3 linked regions of the Homo sapiens genome follow. The protein of the gene in region 1 interacts with the protein of each later gene in a biochemical or structural test. Each region holds a gene or a part of one and is shown in the gene's direction. Other genes may lie near its edges.

The links.
Region 2: the proteins of MSN (region 1) and SELL form a complex in vitro, tested with the Homo sapiens proteins (one study listed by BioGRID).
Region 3: the proteins of MSN (region 1) and ICAM3 form a complex in vitro, tested with the Homo sapiens proteins (2 studies listed by BioGRID).

What each region holds. Positions count from the first base shown.
Region 1 is NC_000023.11:65,663,810-65,670,804, forward strand, and holds the start of MSN (moesin), read left to right. Parts: upstream 1-3,844; 5' UTR 3,845-4,032; coding exon 4,033-4,044; intron 4,045-6,995. UniProt on the Homo sapiens protein: Ezrin-radixin-moesin (ERM) family protein that connects the actin cytoskeleton to the plasma membrane and thereby regulates the structure and function of specific domains of the cell cortex.
Region 2 is NC_000001.11:169,701,621-169,708,620, reverse strand, and holds part of SELL (L-selectin precursor), read left to right. Parts: coding exon 1-204; intron 205-1,171; coding exon 1,172-1,279; intron 1,280-3,867; coding exon 3,868-4,053; intron 4,054-5,180; coding exon 5,181-5,366; intron 5,367-6,932; coding exon 6,933-7,000. UniProt on the Homo sapiens protein: Calcium-dependent lectin that mediates cell adhesion by binding to glycoproteins on neighboring cells. Mediates the adherence of lymphocytes to endothelial cells of high endothelial venules in peripheral lymph nodes.
Region 3 is NC_000019.10:10,333,276-10,336,624, reverse strand, and holds the end of ICAM3 (intercellular adhesion molecule 3 isoform 1 precursor), read left to right. Parts: intron 1-648; coding exon 649-954; exon of another isoform or gene 955-1,271; coding exon 1,272-1,559; intron 1,560-1,804; exon of another isoform or gene 1,805-1,842; coding exon 1,843-2,097; intron 2,098-2,216; coding exon 2,217-2,465; intron 2,466-2,565; coding exon 2,566-2,768; 3' UTR 2,769-2,849; downstream 2,850-3,349. Other genes in the region: RAVER1 (ribonucleoprotein PTB-binding 1), read left to right, coding at 3,118-3,336. UniProt on the Homo sapiens protein: ICAM proteins are ligands for the leukocyte adhesion protein LFA-1 (integrin alpha-L/beta-2). ICAM3 is also a ligand for integrin alpha-D/beta-2. In association with integrin alpha-L/beta-2, contributes to apoptotic neutrophil phagocytosis by macrophages.

The sequences.
Region 1 (6,995 bases):
GCACTTTGGGAGGCCGAGGTGGGCTGATCACAAGGTCAGGAGATCGAGACCATCCTGGCTAGCATGGTGAAACCCCGTCTCTACTAAAAATACAAAAAAAATTAGCCGGGCATGGTGGCGGGTGCCTATAGTCCCAGCTACTTGGGAGGCTGAGGCAAGAGAATGGCATGAACCCGGGAGGCGGAGCTTGAAGTGAGCCGAGATCACGCCACTGCACTCCAGCCTGGGTGACAGAGTGAGACTCCATCTCAAAAAAAAAAAAAAAAGAAAGAAATAGTCGACTGGATAAAGAAAATGTGGTACATATACACCGTGGAATACTATGCAGCCATAGAAAAGAATAAAATTATGTCCTTAGTAGCAACATGGATGGAACAGGAGGCCATAATCCTAAGTGAATTAGTGAAGGAACAGAAAGCCAAATACCGCATGTTCTCACTTATAAGTGGGAGCTTAACATTGAGCACCTACAGACATAAACATGGGCACAACAGACACTGAAAACTACTAGAGGTGGGAGGGAAGAGGACATGGGTTGAAAAGCTTCCTAATGAGTACTATGCTCACTACCTGAGTGCAATATATCTATGTAACAAACATGCACATGTACCCCCTGTATCTAAAATAAAACATGAGAAAATAATATTTAAAAAATTTCTTGCTTGTACTATTGCCAGAGCTTCTTAACTGAGCTCTTTGTCTTCTGTACATTAGCTATCTGGCCTTGGGTAAGTCTTTTCCTCTTTCTGATCCCCAGTTCTCCTGACCTGGAGTGAGACTGGACTAACTAGTCTCTGATAGTTTATGCTCTCTCTCTATTTCCCATCCTCTCCTCCCCAGAGGTCCAACCTCATCTTTCTCCCTCAGCCCCTTTCCCCCTATTTCTTAGCTCCCCGAGCCTCTGACACCCCCTGCCCCTGCTTGGACTTCTATGCCCCCTTTCTTTTTTTTTTTTTTTAAGACAGTGTTTTGCTCTGTCACCCTGGCTGGAGTGCAGTGGTATGATCTTTGCTCACTGCAGCCTCTGCCTTCTGGGTTCAAGTAATTCTCCTGCCTCAGCCTCTCGAGTAGCTGGGATTACAGGCACATGCCACCACACCCAGCTAATTTTTGTATTTTTAGTAGAGATGGGGTTTTCCCATGTTGGCCAGGCTGGTCTTGAACTCCTGACCTCGAGTGATCTGCCTGCCTCAGCCTCCCAAAGTGCTGGGATTACAGGTGTGAGCCACCACACCTGGTCCTTGTTTCCCTTTTAGTAGTGTCTTCAGCTACTTGACACTCTCTACCCAACTCTCCCCTGTGTATGTGTGTTGTGGGGAGTGGTTGGCATGGGAGGTGGGGAATGACACAAGGGAGTTTCCACTTTCCAGAAAGTTGGAGTCGCCAAGTAAATTCTTTGTCTTTAGGCATTTAGCTTCATGCCAGGTCCCTGTAGGTTCTAGGTGAACATGAGTGAAGAAATCAGTTGAGTTCCTTGAACATCTGGTGGAAAAGGGCCAATGGCAGTATTAAGGCGTGTGATGAGCTGTCATTGCTACTCCTGCTGCTGAGGCTTTCTGGTGAGTGCTGCTCTTCCTTGGGGACAACTGCTCATGGAGACTGTTTGGGCTTTCCGATGAGTGCTGCTCTTTGAACAAATGCTTAGCTCAAGGAAATGATCTTGGCAGGGAACTTTGTTTACCCTAGCACACATCAATGAATCTTGTTAGCAGTGAGAGAAACCGAGGCACACTGAATCGTGGACACTGTTGGTCTGGGAAGGCAAAGGAAGAGGATGGAATCAGACTACTGGTTCCTGAGTGCAAATGCAAGACCAGCCCATATGCAATCCTGTTAGGCTCATCTATTGTCCTAGGGAGTATACTTCCTTTCTCATCCCTTTATAATGTCAGAGTGGGAAAGGACCTTGGAAGCCCCGGAGTCCAGTCCTTTCTTGCTACAGAAATGGAAACTCAAGCCCAGAGAGGGGGAGGGAATTACCCAAGGCCACATAGTGGTCATAGGATGAGTTAATGGCAGAGCTATACGTAGAAGCCAGGTGTCCTGACCTCTCAAGTATCCTTTCCATTGTCTCAAACTGGCTTACCATCTGTGGTGCCTTACCTCACAAAGGATACTCAGACCATGCCTTCACATGGTTGCCAGTGGAGAGGAGGAAAAAAGGACTATGGCCAGCCACTTTCAAACTAAAACTCGGACTTATTTTATTTTACTTTTTTTGGAGACGGAGTCTTGTGCTATTGCCCAGGCTGGAGTGCAGTGGCCCAATCTGGGCTCAGTGCAGCCTCCGCCTCCCGGAAGCGATTCTCCTGCCTCATCCTCCCGAGTGCCTGGAACTACGTGCCATCACACCCGGCTAATTTTTTTGTTTTTTTTTTTCGCATTTTTAATAGAGATGAGGTTTCGCCATGTTGAGCAGGCTGGTCTCAAACTCTTGACCTCAAGTGATCTGCAGGTCTTGGCCTCCCAAAGTGGTAGGATTACAGGTGTAAGCCACTGCACATGGTCTCACTTACTATTATTATTATTATTTTTGAGACAGAGTTTCACTCTGTTGCCCTGGCTGGAGTGCACTGGCTCAGTCTTGACTCACTGTAACCTCCGCCTCCCGGGTTCAAGCGATTCTCCCTCCTCAGCCTCCCGAGTAGCTCGGATTACAGGCACGTGCCCGGCTAATTTTTGTAATTTTAGTAGAGACGGGGTTTCACCATGTTGGCCAGGCTGGTCTTGAACTCCTGACCTCAGGTGATCAGCCCGCCTCAGCCTCCCAAAGTGCTGGGATTACAGGAGTGAGCCACTATGCCCGGCTCTCACTTATTTTTTTTGTATAGATATGGGAGGGGGTCTTGATATGCTCCCCAGGCTGGTCTCGAATTCCTGGGCTCAAGCAATCCTCCTGCATCAGCCTCTCAAAGTGTTAAGATTACAGTCATGAGCCACCGCACTCAGCCTAAAACTCAGACTTGACCAGACGACTTCAACAGTCTAGAACACTGCCATCCTGGGATTCTGTGACCTTGACAAGAAGGAGAAAGGGAGCTGGCAGACAAACCCCAAGGGTGTGGACTAGGGAGGTCACATCTAACCTGAGGGAATTATAGCCAGCCCCATCAGGACATCAGAAAGTGAATGTACTGGGAGAGGGGCTAAAGGATCAGGTCACTGATTTGAGGAAGGTGAAGACTGGGATTTAGATGAAGGAAAGATAAATGAGGACTGAGCAAGGATGGGTAGGAAATATGATGGGGAGAGTCCTACGGAAGAGAATGGATGAAGTGTTTTAAGAGGTGAGGCAGTTTAGCCAAAAGAAGAGAAGTTTCCTGTGGACCTGAGATCTTCAGGCCTTTGAGGAGCTGTTAGGGACAACAGGGGATCTGTGTGGCCTCAGGGAGCAGAACTGAGATCCATGGATGGAAGCCATAGAGAAAAGGAGTTCAGACACGGCAAGAACTTTCTAAGAGCCAGAGCTGTCTAGAGAAGGAAAAGATAGGTAGTGAGCTCCCCATCAGTGGAAAGTTGCAGTCAGGGGCTGAGTAAGCATCTGTCAGGGCCCAGGGTCTGGGCCCTGAGTGGGGGTGGGGCTGGAAGGCCAGGACGTGGAAGGCTAGGGGCTGTGACCAGGGTGGGAGAGGAGCCGGGTGGGTCTGGGTGGGGAGTGGTAGCTACCCTAGGTCCGCCCGGGCCCAGCCGGGCCCCCCACGTGGCCGCTGTGGCCTGGCTGCGCCGGGCCTGGCCAGGCGGGGCTGGGCGGGGCAAGGCCAGCGGTCGGCGGGGAGGCGGGCGCGAGGGCGGGGAGCGGCGCGGAAGCCGGGCCACATAAAGGAGCGGGCGGCGCGACAGGGGCGGCTCTTTCCTGGGTGGGGTTTGTGAAGTCGTGGCCCGTTAGCAGGAAGCCTAACAGTCGCCCCGACGCTAGTGAGGGACCCAATCTGAGTCCCCGGCCAGCCGAATCCAAGCCGTGTGTACTGCGTGCTCAGCACTGCCCGACAGTCCTAGCTAAACTTCGCCAACTCCGCTGCCTTTGCCGCCACCATGCCCAAAACGGTGAGTGCCGGAGGTGGGCGCTGTCGACCCCAATGGCTCTGGCTGAGCCTCATAGCCCTTTGCTGATGGCTGAGGGCTTGGCCAGCCACCGGCCCGCCTGGGACGCCGCGCCCTCCGCCATAGCCAAGGGTAGGGAGGGGACCGGAGTGGGATCCTGGTCTGGTGCGCCCTCAGGGGTTGAGGGGGTGTCCAGGCTGGAAGTTTGGACGGGGCGAGGCCTGCCTCTTTCTCAGGTTCCAGTTCCCTGTGTCTGAGATGCAACAGTCAGGACGGCTTCGTTGGGGCCTGGGGTTTCCCCTTTTCCCTGATGGGCCATGGGCACAGAGGAGAGGATTCTGGTCCAGAAGACAACACTTTCCCCAACCCAGGAATTGGCACCTTTCTGGGGCAAGGCTGCCAATGTCCAAGAGGGGACATGGGAACAGAGAAGCAGGGAGAAAGGAGGGAGCCGCTCGGGGCGGATCCGGCACCCCCACTCATCTTTCCCACAGCCTCACCGGGTGGCTCCAGCTGTTTTCCACTAGGAGGTGAGGAGAGAGATGTGAGGAAATCGTCATCGAGGCTGCACCCGAGAGCACCAACACTTATTTAGGCACCAGTCTGAGGAGAGGCCTACCCCATCTCCTGGGAGAGAGGACCGGTTTCTCCCTCCTCTCCACCTCCAAATCCCTGCCCCTCCTATTGCTTAATGCCTCTCTATCTCCTCCTATCCCCTCCGGACTATTTTGTGTGGTGTGGGTTTTCTCGTGGGGCCACACCTTTCTAGAGTGGTGGTTGATTTGGGGATGCGTCTCCACCCCACTGGCTGTTACGAGAGGAACAGAAGCCTCCTGGGAGTGGGGATAGGGGGGCCGGATGCCCAGGAGGGAGAGGGGAGGAGGGGTGTGCCTGACTAATGAGCTCTGCTTGCTTTTGTGCAAGTCATGCCAAATGGCTGCTGAGGCCCTTCCCTTGCTCAGAAAGGCCTGGTGACCACCCTGGCTTGAGTCCCTTAGGCCAAACAGCTTGTTGAGCTGGCCTAGGCAATGCAGTGCTCCCAAACATGTCTCCCCAGGACTGCTTGAGCCTTGTAGAGGTGAGATAGTGACTAGTAGCCTTGAAAAGGGCTGAAGGTCCCCTGGGATGAGAGGAGGAGAGTTGGGGGCCCAGCCTTTTGGGTTTGTGATGAGCTTTGGTTGCCACGTTACTGTATACCAGCCTCACTGCCAAGTCGTTCTTGCCTTTCCAGAACCTTGTCCTTCAGAAACACCAAGTTTTCAAAAAGTATGTGCTTTCACTGTCTATCTCCTTTAAATTGCTTGTGGTTTTAGGACATGAGGCTTTTACACACTTTGTTCCCTAGTCCCCGCCCCCAAAGAGAGAGAGTAATGGTTTTGGAGAGAGGGGAAAATATCCCATTGTCTGCCAAAACAAGATTATAAAGATCCTGTCAGGAGCGGCTCTTTGGGTCTCTCTCTGTGGTTGACTCCTGACTCCTCTTAAGGTGCGGCTTTGCCTGAACAGTTGGGTGGATCTCTGGGAATAGACATTGCTCCACGGTCTTTCTTCTGTAGTGGCATATCTCATCCTCAGTTCTGAGATAGCCCACTTTGAAACACAGCTTCATGGGCCTGGAAGTTGCTTCAAACTTGCATTAACCGTCTCATCTGAGTCAAAGTGGCAAAGAAGACAAGACAGCGTGTTTATTGTTTTCCTGGGAATGGAGAGAGAATGGAGTATAAGCTGTTTGTAGTCAGGCCTGGAGTAATGAGGGTACCTAAATACTGAAGGCATTTTTATGCAGATTGACTGAAACCTGAATCAAATTGGAAGGAGAGGGCTGAATTTTGATAGACTGGAAGTATTAGAGAATTTTCTATACTTTGACTCAAGGAATGGTCAACTTTTAGGAAAAGCAACTATATTATGTCTGTTAAGATCATAGAATCTTAACCTGAAAGGGACCTTGGAGACTATTTAGTACAACTCTCTTAAAAAAAAAAACTAAAACTAAAACAAAAATCTAATGAGGCTATTGAGACCTACAGGGAAAGACCTACCTAAGGGCACATGGTGACTGAGCCAAGATTGGGGTCCAGGCTTTCTGATGCTCATCTCATTGACCCTTTATTCTGACCCAATGATTGAGTTCTTGACATTTGAGTTCCCTTTCTTGCTCCAAACAAATTGCCCACTGTTCTCAGACCTTTATGGTCCTCAGATAAAAGGAAATGAGTAATTTGAGCAAAGTGGCCAAGGTTGACATTTGTGTGGTCTCCTGGTAAGGTTCGGTAGTGTCACCAGGTGCCTTCTGTTACTTTTCTTATTCCTCATACCAAGGCCAAGGTGTTCAGGGGCACACCCTAGTTCACTGAATACCAACCAGTAATTTTAATTAAAAGGGGAAAAAATTTCCCTTTCTCTGCTCCATTTTCATTTATGTGCTTTAGGCTATTTCTAGCGTGTGACAGATGGAGAAAGGTAGTGGAAAATCAAACTCGTTCATTCATATTGCAGCATGTCTACAACCTATCTAGGGTCGGTTTCACTTTTATAGCTAATTGTCCCTCCTAGTCAGCCCAACCTCCCCTACATTTGTTAAAACACGCCAGCCGGGCGTGGTGGCTCCAGCCAGTAATCCCAGCACTTTGGGAGGCCGAGGCAGGCAGATCATGAAGTCAGGAGTTCGAGACCAGCCTGACCAACATGGTGAAACCCTGTCTCTACTAAAATTACAAAAATTAGCTGGGCGTGGTGGTGTGCGCCTGTAATCCCAGCTACTCGGGAAGCTGAGGCAGGAGAATCGCTTGAACCTGGGAGGCGGAGGTTGCAGTGAGCCGAGATCACGCCACTGCACTCCAGCCTGGGTGACAGAGTGAGACTCCATCTCAAAAACAAAAAAAGCAAAAAAACAAAAAAACATGCCTCACTACCCACCGCCACCCTTGCCTTCTTGCCATTCCTTGGACTCT
Region 2 (7,000 bases), on another chromosome or scaffold:
GAATCCGGAAGATAGGAGGAATATGGACGTGGGTGGGAACCAACAAATCTCTTACTGAAGAAGCAGAGAACTGGGGAGATGGTGAGCCCAACAACAAGAAGAACAAGGAGGACTGCGTGGAGATCTATATCAAGAGAAACAAAGATGCAGGCAAATGGAACGATGACGCCTGCCACAAACTAAAGGCAGCCCTCTGTTACACAGGTAGGGAGTGACAAGACGGCTATGCTGCCTCAGACTCAGGAAGGGCCACGGTTAAGAGAATACTCAGATTTACCCCATGGAAAGGTGGGGGGATGAGAACAGCTTCTGGTTCATTCTAAAATACATCTAGCCCTCTATATAATCTTGCATCGTGTCACTCCTAAGAATTTTTGGTGTGTAAGATTTGTCCCTGTGCACAAAAGCTATACCCCTAAATCAAGTTACATCAAAATGATAGATCTACGTAGGAAGTACAGAGGAAGAGCTAGACAATCAGTGCCTTTGATAATAAGGCAGGGGAGGAGAAGCTGACAGCTGGGGCCAGTTGGAAACTTAGGCTCACATCACCTCAGTTTTCACATTGTGAAGTAGAGAGTGTGGTGCTGCGTGCTTCCTTCTTGGTCTAACCTTATATAATTTTATATAAAAATTGCACTATCTTTGGTGTATGAATATTTCTGTAAAATCTTCTACAATTCCAAAACAGCCAGCATTTTCCAAGTGATGTTTTAATAATGAACCATAGTTAATTTGGTCTCTTATAAATTGGACTCTACCGTTTTAGCAAATTTGGACTTTTTAATCTTTGATTTCTATAAAGAAAGGGATTGCCAAGAAATAATTGCATGCAGAAATGATTGAGGTCAGGTCATCATTTAACCTTCTCACTCATTAAAAACAAGTAATTTCAAGAGTTTCAAGGTATGCCACTAAGTTTCCTATAAGTGTTACAGAATATTAGTATTGGTAATTTCATTCCAAAAGCAAATAAATGCCTATGACTATATGCTTAGTGTATTTTATACGTAAAAATTTTAGCATATGATTTTTATGCTATGAATTTACAAATAAACCTTTCCTGATTATTTAAATCATCTCAGACAAAAGGTTATCTATGTCTAAAGAAATGACTTTGAGTACTAAAATGTAATCACATTAAAATATTTTTTTTCTGACCTCCTTAAAGCTTCTTGCCAGCCCTGGTCATGCAGTGGCCATGGAGAATGTGTAGAAATCATCAATAATTACACCTGCAACTGTGATGTGGGGTACTATGGGCCCCAGTGTCAGTTTGGTAAGTCTCTTTCCTTTCTTTGCTTCTTCTTAGGTAAAGTCACAGGAATCATTATAGCTTATCATGAAGCTGGTTGGAACAAAATGATACTAGCCACTCTGAGAAATGGGAAGTTTTGATCAGAAAGCTCTGCTTTCACAATATTGTTACCTTTCCGTAAAGATTTCATAAGTCAGCATGAAGTTTCGACTCACTTCTCAACAAGTCTTTTTGAGTACCACAAGAAGCACAGTGTTGGGATAAAAGCTGTCAGGGTTACCATAAGGAATTAGCATGGTAGATTCCCGCTCTCAAGAAGCTCACGATCTAATGAGCTTGTTAGATTAATTAGAACTCTAAGGTCTGGAAGAAACTATGCCATTTATCATTAGGAGGCTGAGTTACCCAGAAAGTATCTTGCTTTTTCCTTCTAGTAGTTCCTTTCCTTCTTGCAGTTCTCCACACTTAACACATGTGCTCTGTAGCACACTGACTTTGCTGGTGGCCTTCTCTCTCATTTTGCACATGGCCAAAAAACATGTCATCTTTAAGACATTGTTCAAAGACAGTTTCTTCTAGGAAGCTTTCTTAGTTCTGATAGCTCCACATATTTCTTCCTCATTTCTCCCACTTATGTTGAAGTCATCTGTTCACTTGTCCGTCTCCTCTGGTACTGAAAACTTCTTGAGATCAGTAAGTGTCCTATTTATCATTGCATCTTTGGGATCCACAAAATGCCTGTATATATGAGGCACTTGCTTGTGAGCCTGAATTGAATTGGACAATTTAATTTTTTAAAAAAGCAATGTTTGTAAACAATAAAGAATTAAAACCAAAATACATTTAAATGTCAACCAACTGAAATAGATCTATAGATCTAACTCATTTCACTTGATCCCTGGGCCATGACTCCTTCCTAATACTTTACCCTCACCCCATTTTTGAACTCTATTTTTTAACCCTTATGTTATTGGTATGCCTATTTTACTCATTTTTAATTATTGGTATGCCTATTTCACTCATTTTTAACATTTTACTTTTCTTTGTCTTGGTTTCTCTCATATCACTCTTTTCTCATTCTTTCTACCTGTGATCATTTCTCCTGAGATCCTTCATGAGCACTTATCCAGGACCATAAACTACTATAATTTCTCAGCTTTTGTCTTTTGTATATTGCTCTTCTGACTCTAATCTACATGTATCCTTTGGTCAAACTTACTGACTTTTGCGGACTCACAAATCTATGTGATCTTTGGACTGATAAGCCTATCTCCAGCTCTGAACTCAAATATGCTAAGGATGTCCTTTGGGATGTTTAAAAGACTATAAAACCAATTGTTCCCAGTCAGCTTTTCTCTTCGTATTTCTTATCTCAGTATGTGGAATCACCATTTACATGGGCACCCTGGTATGAGACTCTCTTAACTCCCCCAACATTTATGCAGGGTAACATTCTACCAATTTTTACAACTTAGTGTTTTTCTAATTTGTCTTCCACTTGTCAACTCTACTACCATTGCCGTCATTATCTTTCTTCTAGATTCTTGCAATAGTTTATTAGATGAGTTCCACAATTTTAAATTAGCTCCCCTCAAATACATTATTCATACTACAGGGAGACTGATCAATTAAAAGCAATTAAAACACATCACACATACATGACAATCCACCCATTAATTTCTACCTACCATTTTGTCCTACAGGGTGAAATCTAAGCTCTTCAAGCCCCAGAGTAATGCTTGATATATAATAGATACTCTTTAAATCAATGAAAAAAGATAACATTTTCTCTTAGTTCCCATGTTTCTCCCTAATCTCATCTCATATAGTTTCCAAATACAAAAATTCTTCTGATTCCTTGAGTCCATTCTTCCTTGAAGTCTCTAGAGCAAGGTAGCAATAATGGCTTAAATTTGACAGATGAGGAATAAGACATGAAAGTTGTACTGTTTACTAAATGGCATGGCAGGGTCTAAAATGTGAAAACTTTGATTTCCAAGTCTTAAATTTACCTATTGTACCACCAATCAGAACAGGGAAATAGATACAGTTTCTGGAGAGGGTTGTCAAAATCAAAAGAGTTAAAATTCTGGAACTGAGCTAGAATAGAAGACAGAATTGAGGTCAAAATGCTTCCTAGACTTTTATATTCTCTCCTTGCAAAGAAGGCTTATTATGGAGACCCACTCTTTCTCTGAACATCTTGCTCCCAATACTCTAGTAGACTCAGGGGCTCTGATGTGATAGTTATTTCCCGACTAAGCTGGTCATTCCCAGTTACACCTATTTGGCTTTAAGGATTCTCACTACAGATAATGCTGAAGATAATAATATGAAGACTAGCTAATGTTTACTTAGAATTTCTGATGAGTCAGGCTTTGTTCTAAGGTCCTTGACTTATGCTAATTGAATTACATTTAGTTTCCATATCAATTTGATAAAGATAACACAATTTCATTATTCCTCTTATATAGATGAAGAAACTGAAGTTGGAGGGTTCAAGTAACCTTGTTTAAAGGCACATGGTTATCAAGTGGCAGGGCTAGGATTCAAATCCAGGCGTCAGTTCCTCTTAACTCTTCCCCATACTGTTTCTTTCCCTATTGAAGTGATTCAGTGTGAGCCTTTGGAGGCCCCAGAGCTGGGTACCATGGACTGTACTCACCCTTTGGGAAACTTCAGCTTCAGCTCACAGTGTGCCTTCAGCTGCTCTGAAGGAACAAACTTAACTGGGATTGAAGAAACCACCTGTGGACCATTTGGAAACTGGTCATCTCCAGAACCAACCTGTCAAGGTGAGTAACTTCAGACTAGAGGTTTTGTCATGCAATCCTGGGCTTACAGTCAGAACATTCAGTAGAAGTTTGCTGAGAAGTCAAACTTAGGAGCCTAATTTAACCTAACTTTGTTTAACCTACTGTGATGTTTCTCAAAGGACTTATTCTAACTAAATTTTTTTGAAAAACCTCCCAAACAAAAAGTAAAAACCAAATACCCCTGAAGCCATCTCCCAGTGTGTAACATGACTTATAGCAATACAGCATGGTTATACTGTGTTTTTTATTTTTCTCATTGCCATTGCATAAATAATGTCTTGTTGAACCTCAGTTACATTTTGGTTCTTCTCCTCTCAATAACACCTGTTTTATGTGGTGTCCTACTTAATACCAACCAGTTTCCTTCCCAGGGTAGTGGAGGTCTTTCTTGGTTGTTTTATTTGGCTTATTCTTAAAATCACTTTTACTTTTCCTCATGCATAAACTTTTAGGAGAATAACAACTGAAAAACAAAAACACAATCTCTTGATCTTTTCAAGTTTGAAATAAGGTAGGTTTTTTTTTTTTTTTCATTTTTAACTGCCAACCTTATCTCCATATGGGAGAAAACCAATGTCATCTGAACTTACGAAGTTTTGGTTAACTTTTCTACAAGTATGCTCCTGATGCATTAGTTTAAGTAGTTTAATTCTTAGAAGTGCTATCAAAATCCCTTATTGAAATTATAAAACTGTCAACCCACCTACTGGAATTTACGGAAGTTGGACTTGCTTCAGTGAATTGGGATGTTTTTCAAAATGCTTGGGTAGATATCAGAACAGATGAAACGGCAGAGATTCTCTGAGAATATCCCATAAGAGCCCTTGATGCAGAGGCCATATGGCATGGTACTTCCAGCAGAAGGGGAGGGTCACCTTAGCTAGGGCAGCAGCCTGGAGTAGCTACTCCTCTCCCCACAGCTTTCAATGCTTCCTTGCCTTCATCTCTCATTCACCACCCACCATCATTCTCAAGAAAATAAAGCCTGGAAGCAATATCACAAGTAATGTAGTCAGGCAGCTTTGGCTAAAAATCCTTTGCTCAAGGGAGGGTCTCTACTCAGAAATACTGTTTTGTCTTTTTTTTTTTTTTCTTTTTCATTGAAGTGATTCAGTGTGAGCCTCTATCAGCACCAGATTTGGGGATCATGAACTGTAGCCATCCCCTGGCCAGCTTCAGCTTTACCTCTGCATGTACCTTCATCTGCTCAGAAGGAACTGAGTTAATTGGGAAGAAGAAAACCATTTGTGAATCATCTGGAATCTGGTCAAATCCTAGTCCAATATGTCAAAGTGAGTAAGTTTGTCCTGGAAAACTGAAATCTTAACGATGGAGCTGATGGATGAGCAGATATGAGGAAAGACATACATAAACATTTACATGTTGTTTTGCTAAGAATATGTGGCCTAGAAATAAATTTGTATGCTTAACTCACTGTAAAATCTTTGGCTGGTCTTTCCTCCTCCTTTAATGACAATCATTTCCTTTTTTTGTTCTCACCTCTTGCCATCTTAACTCCTAAAATCTGAACTCACTGATTTACTTTTTACCCATTCTTCTATTCCACTACAATCTAACATCTCTGTTAGCCCATTGAAATGCCTGTAAAAGGTCACTAATGACCACCTACTTCCCCAAATAATGGATACTCCTGAATCATCACTAAGCTAATGCCTCCAAAATCTATCTGTATATGAGAAGAATCATGTCTTGTTCATCTTTGTATACCCTCCACCTGACACAGTGCCTGGCAATAGGTGCTAAAGCAAATGCATGTTAAGCTAGCATGTGAAAGAATAGCTACCTGTGTCTGCTCCTGAGACTATCTGCATGGATGACAAAAGTCTTTAAATGGTAGGATCTACAGAAGCTGTCAGAAATGCTGATCTCTGTGTGCTGCGTGCCCAGGGCCAGGGAGTAGAGTGGATGAGCAGAGAGAGGCAGGGAGGCCTTTAGCAGAGGACTGTGTATTAGGCCTATCAGAGACATTTCCCTTTAAGGCCTAGCTAGTGTTCATTTCCTCCTCATCTTCATCAAGCCAACAGGTACCTTCTGTCTGGAGCTCCTGGGAACTTGAGCCTTCTCTCAATCATATATTTGGGTGTGGGGATCAAATCACCTTGAAAAGGTTCATCAAAGTAATGGGAAGAACTAAGGATAGAATCAGACCCTCTGCCAATATGTAAAAAAGTAGATTCCTTCAAATGTTAGTATCAGGAGACAGATTTTTTTTTATACCAGTATTTTCAAATAGAGGCTCCCAAATGAACTTAGTTTACACTTACAAGAGTATCTCTAAACATGCCCTTTTACTTATTCGTGAAGGAAGTAGAGGGAAGTGGTAACTACTGCATTGGAAAGAAATTAGTGCAGGTCCTTGGCATGTAAAAATCAAGTGCTTATTTTTGCACAACTGCTTTAAAGTAAAAGCATTAATGATTTCCTTTGACTGGTGAATTATCCAGTTCAGATCATTGGCTTTTATTTTTCCTGAAGTTGTATTAGGCTTTTAGCTCTTCTCTGTGTTTCAGAGTTCCAGTCATTGAACAAGTCCATGGAGCTAAATACAACGATGACCATTCTTGCCAACATTTTTAGGTGCATTTTCAGGAACTCTATGAACCACAAATCTGGGCATTGAGATTCTGTAGGCATTAGACTAGCAAGGCTGGTCCAGTCTTTGCCTATGCTGTAGACTCATCAGGGGCCTTCCCATGCCAGTTTCCTCATCTGTCAAATGGCATCAAATGGGCTACTACTGGGAGATGTAAGGAGGAAAAAAGTCAAATATCATGAGATAGACTAAGGAAATAATGCTGGTGGTCTCATGCTATGTGCCTTACTGATTTCTCTTTCAGAATTGGACAAAAGTTTCTCAATGATTAAGGAGGGTGATTATAACCCCCTCTTCATTCCAGTGGCAGTC
Region 3 (3,349 bases), on another chromosome or scaffold:
CATGTTGGCAAGGCTGGTCTTGAACTCCTGGTCTCAGGTGATCCGTCCACCTTGGCCTCCCAAAGTGCTGGGATTACAGGCATGAGCCACAGTGCCCGGCCTGAGGCCCAGCGTTTTGTAGGTGTACTGGGGAGGGCACCCAGCCTGGGAGTGTCAAGTCTCCTGTGACTGTGCCGGAGTATCTTGAGAGGCTGCCACAGGGCTGGTGAACCAGGAAAGCCCTGAGTGTCTGAACCTGATTGGAGAGAACTGAATAATCCTGACCTTTTGATCCACCCACCCCGGCCTCCCAAAGCTCTGGGATTACAGGCGTGAGCCACCACGTCTGGCCATAAACAGGAATTTTTAATATTCATATCATAGTCATAAACGTTCATCCCTTCCATCCTCATTTTTTTTTATTGTGCCATCTTTGAGAACAGAAAGTTTTGTTTAGCGCCTTGCAAGGTATCTGACAACACAGGAAATGATAATCACTGCGCTAATGATAATAGCAAACGCTTCGACTGGCCCAGCTCTAAGCCCTCTAAGTTTATTAACTCAAAGCTCACAGTTCTCGGCAGGACCACCCTGTCTCCTCCCCAGTCCCTGGGGTGAGTGGGTGGGTTTGCAGGACCCGCTAAGTGCCATCCTCCCCTCCTCTCTCAGGGCTCCCGGAGCGTGTGGAGCTGGCACCCCTGCCTCCTTGGCAGCCGGTGGGCCAGAACTTCACCCTGCGCTGCCAAGTGGAGGATGGGTCGCCCCGGACCAGCCTCACGGTGGTGCTGCTTCGCTGGGAGGAGGAGCTGAGCCGGCAGCCCGCAGTGGAGGAGCCAGCGGAGGTCACTGCCACTGTGCTGGCCAGCAGAGACGACCACGGAGCCCCTTTCTCATGCCGCACAGAACTGGACATGCAGCCCCAGGGGCTGGGACTGTTCGTGAACACCTCAGCCCCCCGCCAGCTCCGAACCTTTGGTGAGAGAAGGGGCTTCAGACGGTGGGTGACGAGCTGAGCCAGGGTAGACGGTGCCCTGACCTTGGGGTTCCTGAGAGTGGGGTACCCCGGACCTCACAGGCTTCTGGGAAGGAAAGCCCCCGGCCACTGGGCAAGGTGGCCCCGGAAGGGAGGCCCGAGCCGTGGGATCTTTGAAGAAGGCCGTTTTCATGGCCCTGTGTGTGTGTCCTGTGAAGAAGGGTGACCCAGTCAGCAAGATATCCTGACTGGGGGGGATGAGGGTGTCCTGGGGAAGGCACAGTCCTGGGGGTTGTACTATGCCCACCTTTCTCCCCAGTCCTGCCCGTGACCCCCCCGCGCCTCGTGGCCCCCCGGTTCTTGGAGGTGGAAACGTCGTGGCCGGTGGACTGCACCCTAGACGGGCTTTTTCCAGCCTCAGAGGCCCAGGTCTACCTGGCGCTGGGGGACCAGATGCTGAATGCGACAGTCATGAACCACGGGGACACGCTAACGGCCACAGCCACAGCCACGGCGCGCGCGGATCAGGAGGGTGCCCGGGAGATCGTCTGCAACGTGACCCTAGGGGGCGAGAGACGGGAGGCCCGGGAGAACTTGACGGTCTTTAGTAAGAGGAGGCGTGGGAAGGGGGCGCGGCCTCAGCAGTCTGGGGGCGTGGCAGAGGGGGCGGAGACTAGCCGAAAAGGTGGGGCCTGGCTTGCCCCAATAGCAGTTGCAACGTGGGTTGGGCCTGAGTGCCCGAAGCTGGACACAGCGCGGAAAGAGGGCGAGGCTTGAACGGCCGAAAGCGTGGCCCGGATATCCCGAGAGGAAAGGGGAGGGCGGAGGGAGCGGCTTGACCCACAGGAAGGTCCTGTTCATTAAGCTCCTGGGCAATGCCCCGCCTTTAGGCTTCCTAGGACCCATTGTGAACCTCAGCGAGCCCACCGCCCATGAGGGGTCCACAGTGACCGTGAGTTGCATGGCTGGGGCTCGAGTCCAGGTCACGCTGGACGGAGTTCCGGCCGCGGCCCCGGGGCAGCCAGCTCAACTTCAGCTAAATGCTACCGAGAGTGACGACGGACGCAGCTTCTTCTGCAGTGCCACTCTCGAGGTGGACGGCGAGTTCTTGCACAGGAACAGTAGCGTCCAGCTGCGAGTCCTGTGTGAGTCGGTCACCCTGACCTTTAATCCCTCCACCCCTGCCCTGGAAAGATTAGACGCTCCTCTGCACCACTGTGCCTCGGGTGTGTTGGGTGTCTGATCACACATGGTGGTTCCACAGATGGTCCCAAAATTGACCGAGCCACATGCCCCCAGCACTTGAAATGGAAAGATAAAACGAGACACGTCCTGCAGTGCCAAGCCAGGGGCAACCCGTACCCCGAGCTGCGGTGTTTGAAGGAAGGCTCCAGCCGGGAGGTGCCGGTGGGGATCCCGTTCTTCGTCAACGTAACACATAATGGTACTTATCAGTGCCAAGCGTCCAGCTCACGAGGCAAATACACCCTGGTCGTGGTGATGGACATTGAGGGTGAGCTAACACGGGGCTGCGGGTCTGGACCGGTAAGCCGGGGGGCGGGGGGGTTGGAGACAGAAGGGACGCATATTGACTTAGCGCTTTCTCTGCACAGCTGGGAGCTCCCACTTTGTCCCCGTCTTCGTGGCGGTGTTACTGACCCTGGGCGTGGTGACTATCGTACTGGCCTTAATGTACGTCTTCAGGGAGCACCAACGGAGCGGCAGTTACCATGTTAGGGAGGAGAGCACCTATCTGCCCCTCACGTCTATGCAGCCGACAGAAGCAATGGGGGAAGAACCGTCCAGAGCTGAGTGACGCTGGGATCCGGGATCAAAGTTGGCGGGGGCTTGGCTGTGCCCTCAGATTCCGCACCAATAAAGCCTTCAAACTCCCTAATCTGTGGTTTGATTCCACCCGCGCTGCAAGTCTCTCCCACCCAGGTGCACATCCACTGAGTAGCGTCGCTGCGACGGAAGGGGGCGGGGCCTGTGGCGCGCAGACGCAGCTTGAACTCTTGAGAGGTGGGCTGGGGCTTAGCCAACGGGGCAAGGGGGGCGGGAAGGAGGTGGGGTTTCTCCCAGCCAATCGACGGGCGCGCCCTCGTTGCCGCTCTATGCCGCTCCGCCCCGGCTCGCTGGTCCCAGAAGGCGCCGGGTTTCCCAAGATGGCGGCGGACGTGTCCGTTACTCACCGGCCCCCGCTGAGCCCTAAGTCTGGGGCCGAAGTCGAAGCCGGCGATGCCGCGGAGCGCCGGGCGCCGGAAGAAGAGCTGCCGCCTCTAGATCCAGAAGAGATCCGGAAACGCCTGGAACACACCGAGCGCCAGTTCCGTAACCGCCGCAAGATACTGATCCGGGGCCTCCCGGGGGACGTGACCAACCAGGTATTGGGGGGGG